Linked DNA regions of Homo sapiens. The protein of the gene in region 2 purifies or fractionates together with the protein of the main gene of each other region. This does not show direct contact. Each region holds a gene or a part of one and is shown on either strand. Other genes may lie near its edges.

Region 1 (3,081 bases), on a different chromosome or scaffold from region 2:
AAGCCAGCTTGTGGGGGCAGCTGCATGCGAGCCACACAATCACATAAGAGGAAGCACACACAGTACGCAATGCTGTGTAGTCAAGAAAGACTCACAATGTCCTACAGATACCTGTGGCCATAGTCCCAGGCACACACCATCACTCACTATCACACACGAACACAGCCAGGCTCCTGGTCACAGCTGTCCACTGTCATGCACAAGCACACACTGTCACTTTTAAGCACTTACATAGCTCACATGGTCACACATCACTATACAAAACCACACAGAGGCATACAGCCACAGACTCACACTGTCATACACAGACACACATAGACACACTTAGTCTTTGGCTTCTCAGGCTGGAGAGGAGTCCCAGAAGCCATTGTAACCACCCCGCTGCCTCTGGACAGGAGGACTTCACTCAGCCCAGACAGAGCCCACATAGGTGACATTTAATCAGCCAGGCTCTTCTATCAGAGCATTTAACAACTCTGTGTGTACCACATGCCTTCACACACACAAACACATCCACACTATCATATAAATATATAAGCAGACACGCTACGTGGTCATGTACATGAATATCCTCACAGTACACATAAGCAGCCACAAATACTCATAAGCATACAATGTACATACGTGTACATATTCATACATGCATACACATAATCATATATACATACAAGCATACATAACAGCTACATATATAACAGCTATATGTATAGCTGTTATATGCCTGTGACAATTCATGCACACACACATACACACCCACTACGAGCAGCCCTCCTTTTTATGAAAGCACTGCTGACCTCTGGGTGCCGTGGACAGAGAATATGAAGGGAAGGGCTGACACTGACTCCTCCTGAAGCCCTGCTTCTGCTCCTACCACCCCATCTTCTCTGCCCTCCCCCTAGCACTGCTGTCTGCTGTGCGGATCAACGGGGATGGACAGGAGGTCCTGTACCTGGCAGAAGGTGATAATGTGAGGCTGGGCTGCCCCTACGTCCTGGACCCTGAGGACTATGGTCCCAATGGGCTGGACATCGAGTGGATGCAGGTCAACTCAGACCCCGCCCACCACCGAGAGAACGTGGTGAGTGCTGGGCACAGGGGTCTCCTTCCTCTAGGCTTCATGATGTCTACCTGTTGGACAGCCAACATCCCAAAGGGAGAAGACTGACCTTGAACCTCCCCCAAGGCCTTTCAGGGAATGAGGCAATGGGGATGAGAGCTCTGCAATTGTGAATTAAGCTAGCCAGTCAGTCTACCTCCTCCCATCCCATTCTAAAAGGAAGATAAGTTGTAGTCTTTGCCTTCAAAAAGTTCCCAGTCTGACCATATATCTTTCCAAGTGCTTGATCTCACCTGATCTCACCAGTTCTGTAAGAGGTCAGTGGCTCAGGCATCATTATTCTCATTTTTTCAGCTGAGAAAAGAGTCTCAGAGAAGTTCAGTGAATTGCCCAAAGCAGCCAATCCACATGGCCCTTCTTGGCTCTGCCTGTTTCACCACCTGTTTTCCTCTCCTCTTCACAGTTCCTTAGTTACCAGGACAAGAGGATCAACCATGGCAGCCTTCCCCATCTGCAGCAGAGGGTCCGCTTTGCAGCCTCAGACCCAAGCCAGTACGATGCCTCCATCAACCTCATGAACCTGCAGGTATCTGATACAGCCACTTATGAGTGCCGGGTGAAGAAGACCACCATGGCCACCCGGAAGGTCATTGTCACTGTCCAAGGTATGGCCAGACTCCTCTAAGCTCCTCTCCCCCTGGCTTAAGAGCCAAGGGCAGCTTGGCCACTTTGAGCCTGGCTCTGTCTCTTGGCTGGGCCCTGGCTTACAATTGTCTGCCTCCTTGCAGCACGACCTGCAGTGCCCATGTGCTGGACAGAGGGCCACATGACATATGGCAACGATGTGGTGCTGAAGTGCTATGCCAGTGGGGGCTCCCAGCCCCTCTCCTACAAGTGGGCCAAGATCAGTGGGCACCATTACCCCTATCGAGCTGGGTCTTACACCTCCCAGCACAGCTACCACTCAGAGCTGTCCTACCAGGAGTCCTTCCACAGCTCCATAAACCAAGGTGAGAGGGCCCTGGATGAGGGCAGTCGGGGGTGAGTGGAAGATCAGGGACTCTGGGACCTGTTGGGGTTTCCTTGGGTTATCAGTGCCATCAAATCAAACCTGGAATCCCTGTGGGAGACCCTCCCTCTGGGCCTGCCCCAGCAGCTGCTATTTTTTTTTTTTTTTTTGAGACAGAGTTTCGCTCTTGTTGCCCAAGCTGGAGGGCAATGGCATGATCTCGGCTCACTGCAACCTCTGCCTCCCGGGTTCAAGCGATTCTCCTGCCTCTGCCTCCCGAGTAGCTGGGATTACAGGCATGCACCACCGCACCTGGCTAATTTTTTGTATTTTTAGTAGAAACGGGGTTTTACCATGTTAGCCAGGCTGGTCTCAAACTCCTGACCTCAGGCGATCCGCCCGCCTTGGCCTCCCAAAGCGCTAGGATTACAGGCGTGAGCCACCGTGCCTGGCCCAGCAGCTGCTATTGAGAGCAGATGATAAGGCAAATGTGGAGAGTCAGTCAAAAGTACTATGGCGAATTTGGAGGGAGCCTGGTCTCAGACAGAGCTGGGCTTGAATCCTGGCTGGGACACTGACTGGCTCCAAGTTTAAGGCAAGTGGCTTACCCTCCCTGTGCCTTAATTTCTTCATATATGGAAAGGGAATACTAACATATACCTTTCATGGGCATGCAAGGATTAAATGGGGGAGGTGTGTAAAGCTCCTAGTACATAGAGAAGCTGAAAATATTCAGTCAAACAAAGAATAATAGAGCTAGGAGGGACCTTAGAGTTCCTCTTCCCCTGGCTTCTCCTGTCCTCACTGTACAAAGGAGGAGACCAAGGCTCAGAGAGCGTACATATTTCCCTAAGGTCAGAGTGAATTAATGGTGTCCCTGTCTTGCTGCTGGGAGAGAGGTCCTTTCTTGCATCTCTTTCACAGCAGGGGGAAGGTGACTCACCTGGAGAGTGGAGTGTGTGTGTGTGTGTGTGGGTGTGGGTGTACACACATGCATAAGCCTTCCCTTCTTCTA
Region 2 (3,660 bases):
TTATTTTTTATCCAGGAGCAAAATATAATATACTTAGTTGCTAAGTTAATTAATAGCTGATTGAAATGGAAGATAAGTTTTTCATTGGCTTTACTTATGTTTCCTAGATTTTGTTATTGTTGAAGATCTAACAGTATTATCTTTGCTAAAATGTAGTCATTATCATTTAAAAAATATTTTGTTAAAATGTCCTTCTACTTTGCATGTTTGAAATATTAACCTTTTTGAATGAAAGTCTGAATTTTTACTAAAGTGTTTTTTTTTCTAATTTGTGTATAGCATTTTAGGCATTTTGTTTAAATAAGTAAAAAGTAGTAACAAATACTTAATAAACAAGTTAATTTTAATTTACTTAAAATTATGTCACTTGGTATAGTAAAAATATCACTTGCTATAACAGATAACCTTCCCCAAATCATGTTTTAAAAGACATCCTGCTTCAGTTTTTAAAAATTGAAAATATTCATGTGCTGTTTCAATTTTTGTTCTTACACATTCAACTATATCCTTCATATTTGGCATTTTGATTTATTAGGCAATCTTAGCATTAAAGACTTTTAGCAAAGCAGTGCTGGATCTCAAATGCACTATGCATGGTGCCTATGATGAATTAATTCCACTAGAGCACAAGAGTTATCATTATTTAAACGCTAGTTTCTTTCAGAAGTTTTAAATCACAGTCAAGTTTTCAAAATTAGAACTTAACTAATATTTTGAGGTAAACGTATGAGGTTTCTTGTTACATATGTTAAGTTTTCTTAATATTTAACTCTTTCTTGTGTGAATCTGCATAGAAATATTTAATATTTGATATTGATAATTGATCAAAGATTAAGGAGGTATTTAAGAATATATGTTTTAAATTTGATGCCTTACTTTTCTTAAAATGTCATATTCAAAACTATTTGGATTTAATGCATATGTTTGATTAAATAAATTGGACACTGGAATGAATCAGATATTAGACATAAAGTGTCTTTCAAGGTCACTGTAATCATTTTGTTTAAGAAAAGTTGACGAAATGAATTGTTAGAAATGTTTTATATGTACTGTTATTTGTTCTTAGTTTTCTGGGAAGTCATTTTTTTTTCATCCATTTGTTTTGATTAAATAGTAAGACTCCTCCACCAAAATGAGAGTTAATATTAAGGCACTAAGATTATAAGACAGACTGTTTATGTAGAATGCAGAGTGTGGTTCAAAGTAGAGGCTATTTTTATCTTCTTTATAATCCCTGACATACATAGACAGATTGATTGATCTATCTTTATAAACATATATAGATACACATATTCATGTGCACACATATACACATGGGAATGTGGAGTGGAAAAGAGATAGGGAGCATAAGAAACAGGGAAGGAGAAGAGATGAGAAAGAAGACCATAGAGAAAGTTGAGTAAGCAACAAGGACCAGTAGTGTCCCTGGTGGTGGCTGAGATAACACAATTAACTATGCTTGTCCAGGTCAAGTTTCAAACTTTTAAACATTGCTGCGAATACGGAATAGGATACATGCAGGTTTCTGTTATCACTCTGGCATGTAACTATCTCACATGATACAGTTTTATACCAATAGAACATATAACTCTACGAGGAAGAAATAAAACCAACAAGTCTAGCATTCAGTACTACCCTATCATAAAGTAAGGAGGCCTAATTGAGCTATGTCTTTATATCCTGCTATTTGTACAAATAAAAGACTACATCTTGATGCAAAATAAACACAAAAGCACTGTTGTGACTATAACAGGGAGTCATATACTAATTTATATAATAAGTGGTTGTGCACGCTTTATTCAAGATTATGGCTGCAAGAAATGGCATGAATTGCTGGGTGTGTTTAATGCTGGATTATAGCAATTTGAAACATGTCAAACACATGGCTAATGCCTCATGCTTCACTCATTCTTGCGTAAACCTGCATAGCCACCATCCATTATACCCTTGGTAACAACACAATTCTGCAAGTAAATATTGTTACACTAAGTAACCTTTCAATTCAAGTTGTTTAGGAAGAGAAAATGCAATCTTGTGCAGTCAGTTCCAGTGTCAGTTTAATGTTTCAAAAGGGAAGTGGTGTAGAGAATAAGTATCTGTACAGTGACTTGCTTAAAAAAGAAGAAAGAAAAAGGAAAGGAAGGAAAACTTAATGCAGGGGAGAAAAGTCTAACTGTATCGTTTGAGTGTAAGATCTGAAGAGTTATTTTCTGATGTGGCTGAAAAGTTGTGTACGATGAAAGACTTAAGGGTTTAACTTACAGTTCAGACAAACATTAAAACAGGGACTCCCAGATTCATCTTTCCCTTTAATGATCTGGAATTTATTTTCACTGATTTTTGTAAAATGTTTGTGGTGGGATTGATAAGAATGAATAATTTAGCTTGGTATGTTTCGGATCATAAGCACATCCACTCTGAAAGAATATGCTGAATTTATTATTATTTAAAATATACTTAAAAGGTAAACAGCACTTCACATTGTGCTGGAAATATTTCCTATATTGGGAAATAAGTGGAAGTGTTACCAAGAGAAACTTAGTAAATGCTAGAAATAATCTGCATTGTCCTTGAAAAATTCCTCCTTTATAGTGAACATACTCCAAGCTTTTTTAAGTGAAATGTACAGTATAATCATCTAATTACACAATCACCCTTCTTTTTTCATATAAGTGTTGTATCAGATACTCCTCTTTTGTAGAGCAAAAAGTACTATCACTGTTATAGTTTTCTTAAGCATTATTTTACTAACTCTTAGATGATTGAACTTAAAATGTAAATAACAGTTTATACTGTAGGGTTTTATAAAGTTAAAAACTCCACAAGGGCTAAGAATAAAATCCTTTAGTTAAAAGGAATTATAAGTTATTTAGGTCTTTCTTCGTAATTGTAATAAAGATTTAGACACATGCCTCTTTGCTTGTTGATTATTCTTAATTATTTGATGGCCTTGATTATGACACAGTAATACATGTAGAATTCTTTAATTCATCCAATTGGTCCTGAGATTTACTACACAAAGGTTAGTAGTAAATGCTGCACCTGTCTGCTACACTGGAAAATATAGTGTTTTATTTTTATTCCTTGTGTTGCTAACTCCATCCAGAAACAATAAATATTTCAAATAACTTAGGTGATGAAATAAAAACATACACATATATACACATATTCCAGACATGTTCTCAAAAGTAAAATTTAAATGCAATATGTAAAAGTTATGCCTATCTGTTTCTACAGTTGGAGAGGATTGAAATTATAATTTTCATATAACTAGTAAAGGCAATCAGACCTTTTCTCTGAATATTTTAAACATTGTGCATGTAAAATTTATGCCTAATTTGAATACTTATTAGCTGCCTAATCTCAGAAAAGAGTATTAGCTTTGTTTTTTTCTTATAAAATCCATCACTATGTATCAGTTTTAATTTATATGATTTTTTCTTTGTTAATGTTCAATAAGATGTTTAGCAAAACCTATTTGTTTATAAACACATTTCGCTCAAAAATTGTTTACTATAGTTACAGCAATTATTTCCTTTCTGCTCATGTTTTCTGTTGTTTTTTTATTATCCAAACAGCTTTAAGTTGTATATGTAATTTTTGTTACACTAACTTGCTTTGCTAGTCCAGCTATTGACGTTTTTTACTAAATCAGTATGT
Region 3 (3,760 bases), on a different chromosome or scaffold from region 2:
CAAATGGAGAAAGCTAGAGGTACCCACATAAATGATCTAGTACCTATTTCTATTGCTTCCTGTTTCTTTTCTTTAAAACTCATCCTATAAATAGCATTCAAGTAGATAGAAAATCTTATATTTAGAAGAAAATATAAGAAAAATCTTATATGTAGAAGAAATCATCTATAGTGTAAACAAAAGATAGAGACCTTTGTGAAATATCTCCTTCAAACACAACAATAGAGAAGAATGTTGTTTTTCCCTTGTAAAAAGCAATGTCACTTAAAGACCTGGAGTTGTTTCATTAATTCTCTTAGGCAAATTAAATTATCTAATTCAACATGACATGAAATAATGCAAAAGTAAATTACTTTATCTGGCTTCCAAAAATACTAAAACTACTTTTCTCAAGAAACTAAGCAATACTTAGAATACATTCTATTACCAGGGTCAACCTTGTTTCTGAATTACAGTGATGGGATAGTGAAGACAGGAGGCAGTCTCCCTTTGAAATTCTCCAACCAACATGTATTATCTATCAATCAGAGAACAGTTAACTGCATTTTCTTTTAAGTTTATTGATGTTGCTGCCAGCCTGCAATGTTTGCATCAGGACACTCTATACCCTGTTTCAAACCCATACTAACAAAGGAAAAGGGAGACACGAAAAAGGGAAATAATATTCAAAAATATCCAGATCCCACTCTGGGCTTTTTTTCATTAAATTCTCACGTTTCCAACTTCAGTTTCTCCTTAATAAATATTTGTGGTGGTGTAAAATGTGTTCCTCACCCACATTATGTACTTTTTATCAGTGGTAATACTATGAGAAGTGAGAATGTTGTATTGTAGTTACTTTAAAATGATTTTGTAAATATCATATTGTAGAGGTTTGACTGAATAATCAAGAAAGAAAATGCCAAAGTATGGAAACAAACATACTGGTACTAGTTAAATCAGAGTTCCTTCATCTTAACTTTGTTATTTCAGAAAATCTTTAAAATTGAGAGTGCGGTTCAACCACAAGACATTTTAAAGAGAGAAGCAGGACTCAACTGAATTGAAATGAGCGTCATTATTCTATCTTTCTTCCTATACCATACTTGAGTCCTGATGACTTTCAACAATGGCCTCTGCTAAAAGTATCATTCCTTGAAGTGGGTTCTGCAGTGGACATGTGTGTGTATGTGTTGTCAGTATATGTAATTTTGCTTTTACAATGTTGGCAGTAAGAAGAAGCCTTCTAATTTTATTCAGCATGATGATAGGCCCTAGCATTTTAATTATTTTTTATGTTGTGAGTAATTTATTATTCACTGGCTATCTTCCCTGTAAATCTTGTCCTCGCTCTGTAAGGTTTTTCTTTGGTGTCCAACAAAGGGTTTCATTGCAATAAGAATCAAGGTGTGTCTAAATTCTTACCCAGAGCCCAAACAATGCCAGTCTTCCAGACCAGCCTGGGAGTTTGGGGTGGGGAAACAGTCATTATAGAATATCTTCATCTCTCTGCCCAGAGATCACCACAGTTATCACCCATGCCCTCCTAAAAGGGTGTCTCAAAGCATATCTTTCTGTAGAGCAGAATTCGGAACTGAGAAGACGAGGGCTCAAATTGAATCTCACAGGATTTGCGTGCAAGAGAAACCCAAAGGAATGGATTGGCTCTTCTTCAGAAACATTTGCCTTTTGATCATTCTAATGGTAAGTAGAATTTAAAGAGGTGGGAAGGAAATGCAGCCTCAAGGTCTTGTCTCTGTCAACTGTCGGGCTTTCTACATGGGATTTATTCCATTTTTAATCTCCTTCCTGCAAAGAGAGTTCTAGAAGTCCAGCCTCTGTTAATTTCAAACAACTCTCTCCGCCTTGAGGAACAAAATGCCATAGAGAAGCGGGGTGAGAATCTGGCTGAATTAAATTTATATGCCCTCAGAGACATAATCTACTTCACTTTGAGTGTTAGGACTATTCTAAAATTTTAAATTGGAAATAAAATTCATATTCTATGATCATATAAATAAATCAGATAGATTGCTGTGAAAACTGCCAGTGCAAATGGGTTCTAAATTTGAAGGGAAGTTAATCAAACCCATTTCTTTTCAATAGTTATTTCCCTATGAGTTTCTTTCAAAGTGGAGGAATGATAGCCATGTTGAAATTACATTGCAACTAATGATGACATACTAAAGTCATGAGAACTTTTTCCAGTCAGATATTGCTAAAGAAAAATGAAGCCCAGCCATCAAGACAAAACTTTTCTGGAATTATGAATGCATTCCTACAGACCAGCAAAGAAATATTTAAATGACTTATTTCTTTACAGTAAACATGGCATCTTGGATATTATATTTCTTTCCTCTAACCTTTGGGTGCCCAAGGTGTGACATGATTTCCAGACAGGCAGCATGCATAGCAAATATCCTACCCTAGAAAGAGATAATTCCAACTCCAAAGAAGAACAAAGTTCCAGTTGGCCAATCAACAAACTATTGCCAATTCTGGGAGGGTAAGAGGACAGGATTATTAGGAACTGTACAAATTTTTCAAAGTAAATTAAGACAAATGCATTATAGTTGGCCACACTTCAATCTCCCAGGAGTATCCAGGTTAGCGCTACAACCTAAGCTTAGAAAGTGATTCCCATCCTATTCTTAGGCAAGTGGCAATTATACCAGACTCCTCTGAACATCAGTTGTAAGAGACAGAGAGTAGCTAGGGCTGGGAGAGATGGGAGCACGTCATTGTCCAAGAGGCACAGTGAGAGCTACTCTTCTGGAATTCACATTTCTAAACTTCAAGAGCAGTGCGGGAGCCGAACACTGCCAAAGGGCACACAACCCCAAGCTCAAAAGGGAACGTGACAACAGTGGTAGAATATTGCATCCTCTGAGTTTAGGAGACAGATTATTAAACAATACCATTTTTGAAAAATATTTTTAAACTTAAAAACATAAGACGAAGGGCAATATTCTGTTACAATGATCATTATTTATTTACTAAATAAAATAAATGTTACTAAAAGAAGAGGCAAGAATCGGACTTGGTCTTCAATTGAAATAGTAAGTTATGAGGATATACCTCTTGTTACTCTTCTACCGAGTATATTCATGCTTTGACTCAGATAAACTTTTGGTTTTCTGTAAGGAAAATTGTATGTGTCAAGATTTTAGAGGCCACTTCTGAGCACTAAATCTTGCCTCCCATTGCCTTCTGCACAGGCATGATTTATGATAATATTATTTAATTGAAGAGTTGATTCTTCTCCTTGATCTTGAAAGAGTATTATACTTCAGACTCTCAGGATCTTTTTTTGGTAGTATTTATTTATTTTCCTTGGTAATACTAGCGTTTTTAATACTTAATTCCTCCTACTCCTCATTGATATTGAAGTCTTTGTGTTTGACATTTCACGGTAATTGTGAAAAAGTTCTTTAAGTATTTTTTTTCTTTATGCTTGTCTAAAAGATCCCTTACCATATCAATTAATAGTGTCTGGAATTGGGAGGTAGAGACTTCTGGCATATTTCAAAATTGAAACAAATACAAGAATTGTTTAAGGAGAATCAATGAGATGTTATAGATATTATAGGAAAGTAGACATGCCTACTTCTCTTTAATTTCCTGAACTTGAACTCTGCCCCTTCTTCATTAACTAAATCAAAGACTCTCTGGGGCATCATTGCAGCTTACACTAATGAGGGTGTGGCAGCCTCTCAGAGACTCACAGGTACTTTGTGTCAGCTACATCTCAACCGCAAAGAGCACTGTAAACAAAGTTCTG

What was found.
Region 1: the proteins of FOXP2 (region 2) and VSIG8 purify together in Homo sapiens (affinity purification with mass spectrometry; 2 studies listed by BioGRID and IntAct, with this or other methods). This does not show direct contact.
Region 3: the proteins of FOXP2 (region 2) and DSG4 purify together in Homo sapiens (affinity purification with mass spectrometry; 2 studies listed by BioGRID and IntAct, with this or other methods). This does not show direct contact.

Annotation. Positions count from the first base shown.
Region 1 is NC_000001.11:159,856,731-159,859,811, reverse strand, and holds part of VSIG8 (V-set and immunoglobulin domain-containing protein 8 precursor), read left to right. Parts: intron 1-899; coding exon 900-1,078; intron 1,079-1,520; coding exon 1,521-1,722; intron 1,723-1,845; coding exon 1,846-2,067; intron 2,068-3,081.
Region 2 is NC_000007.14:114,421,255-114,424,914, forward strand, and holds part of FOXP2 (forkhead box protein P2), read left to right. Parts: intron 1-3,660. UniProt on the Homo sapiens protein: Transcriptional repressor that may play a role in the specification and differentiation of lung epithelium. May also play a role in developing neural, gastrointestinal and cardiovascular tissues.
Region 3 is NC_000018.10:31,375,277-31,379,036, forward strand, and holds the start of DSG4 (desmoglein-4 isoform 2 preproprotein), read left to right. Parts: upstream 1-1,500; 5' UTR 1,501-1,635; coding exon 1,636-1,683; intron 1,684-3,760.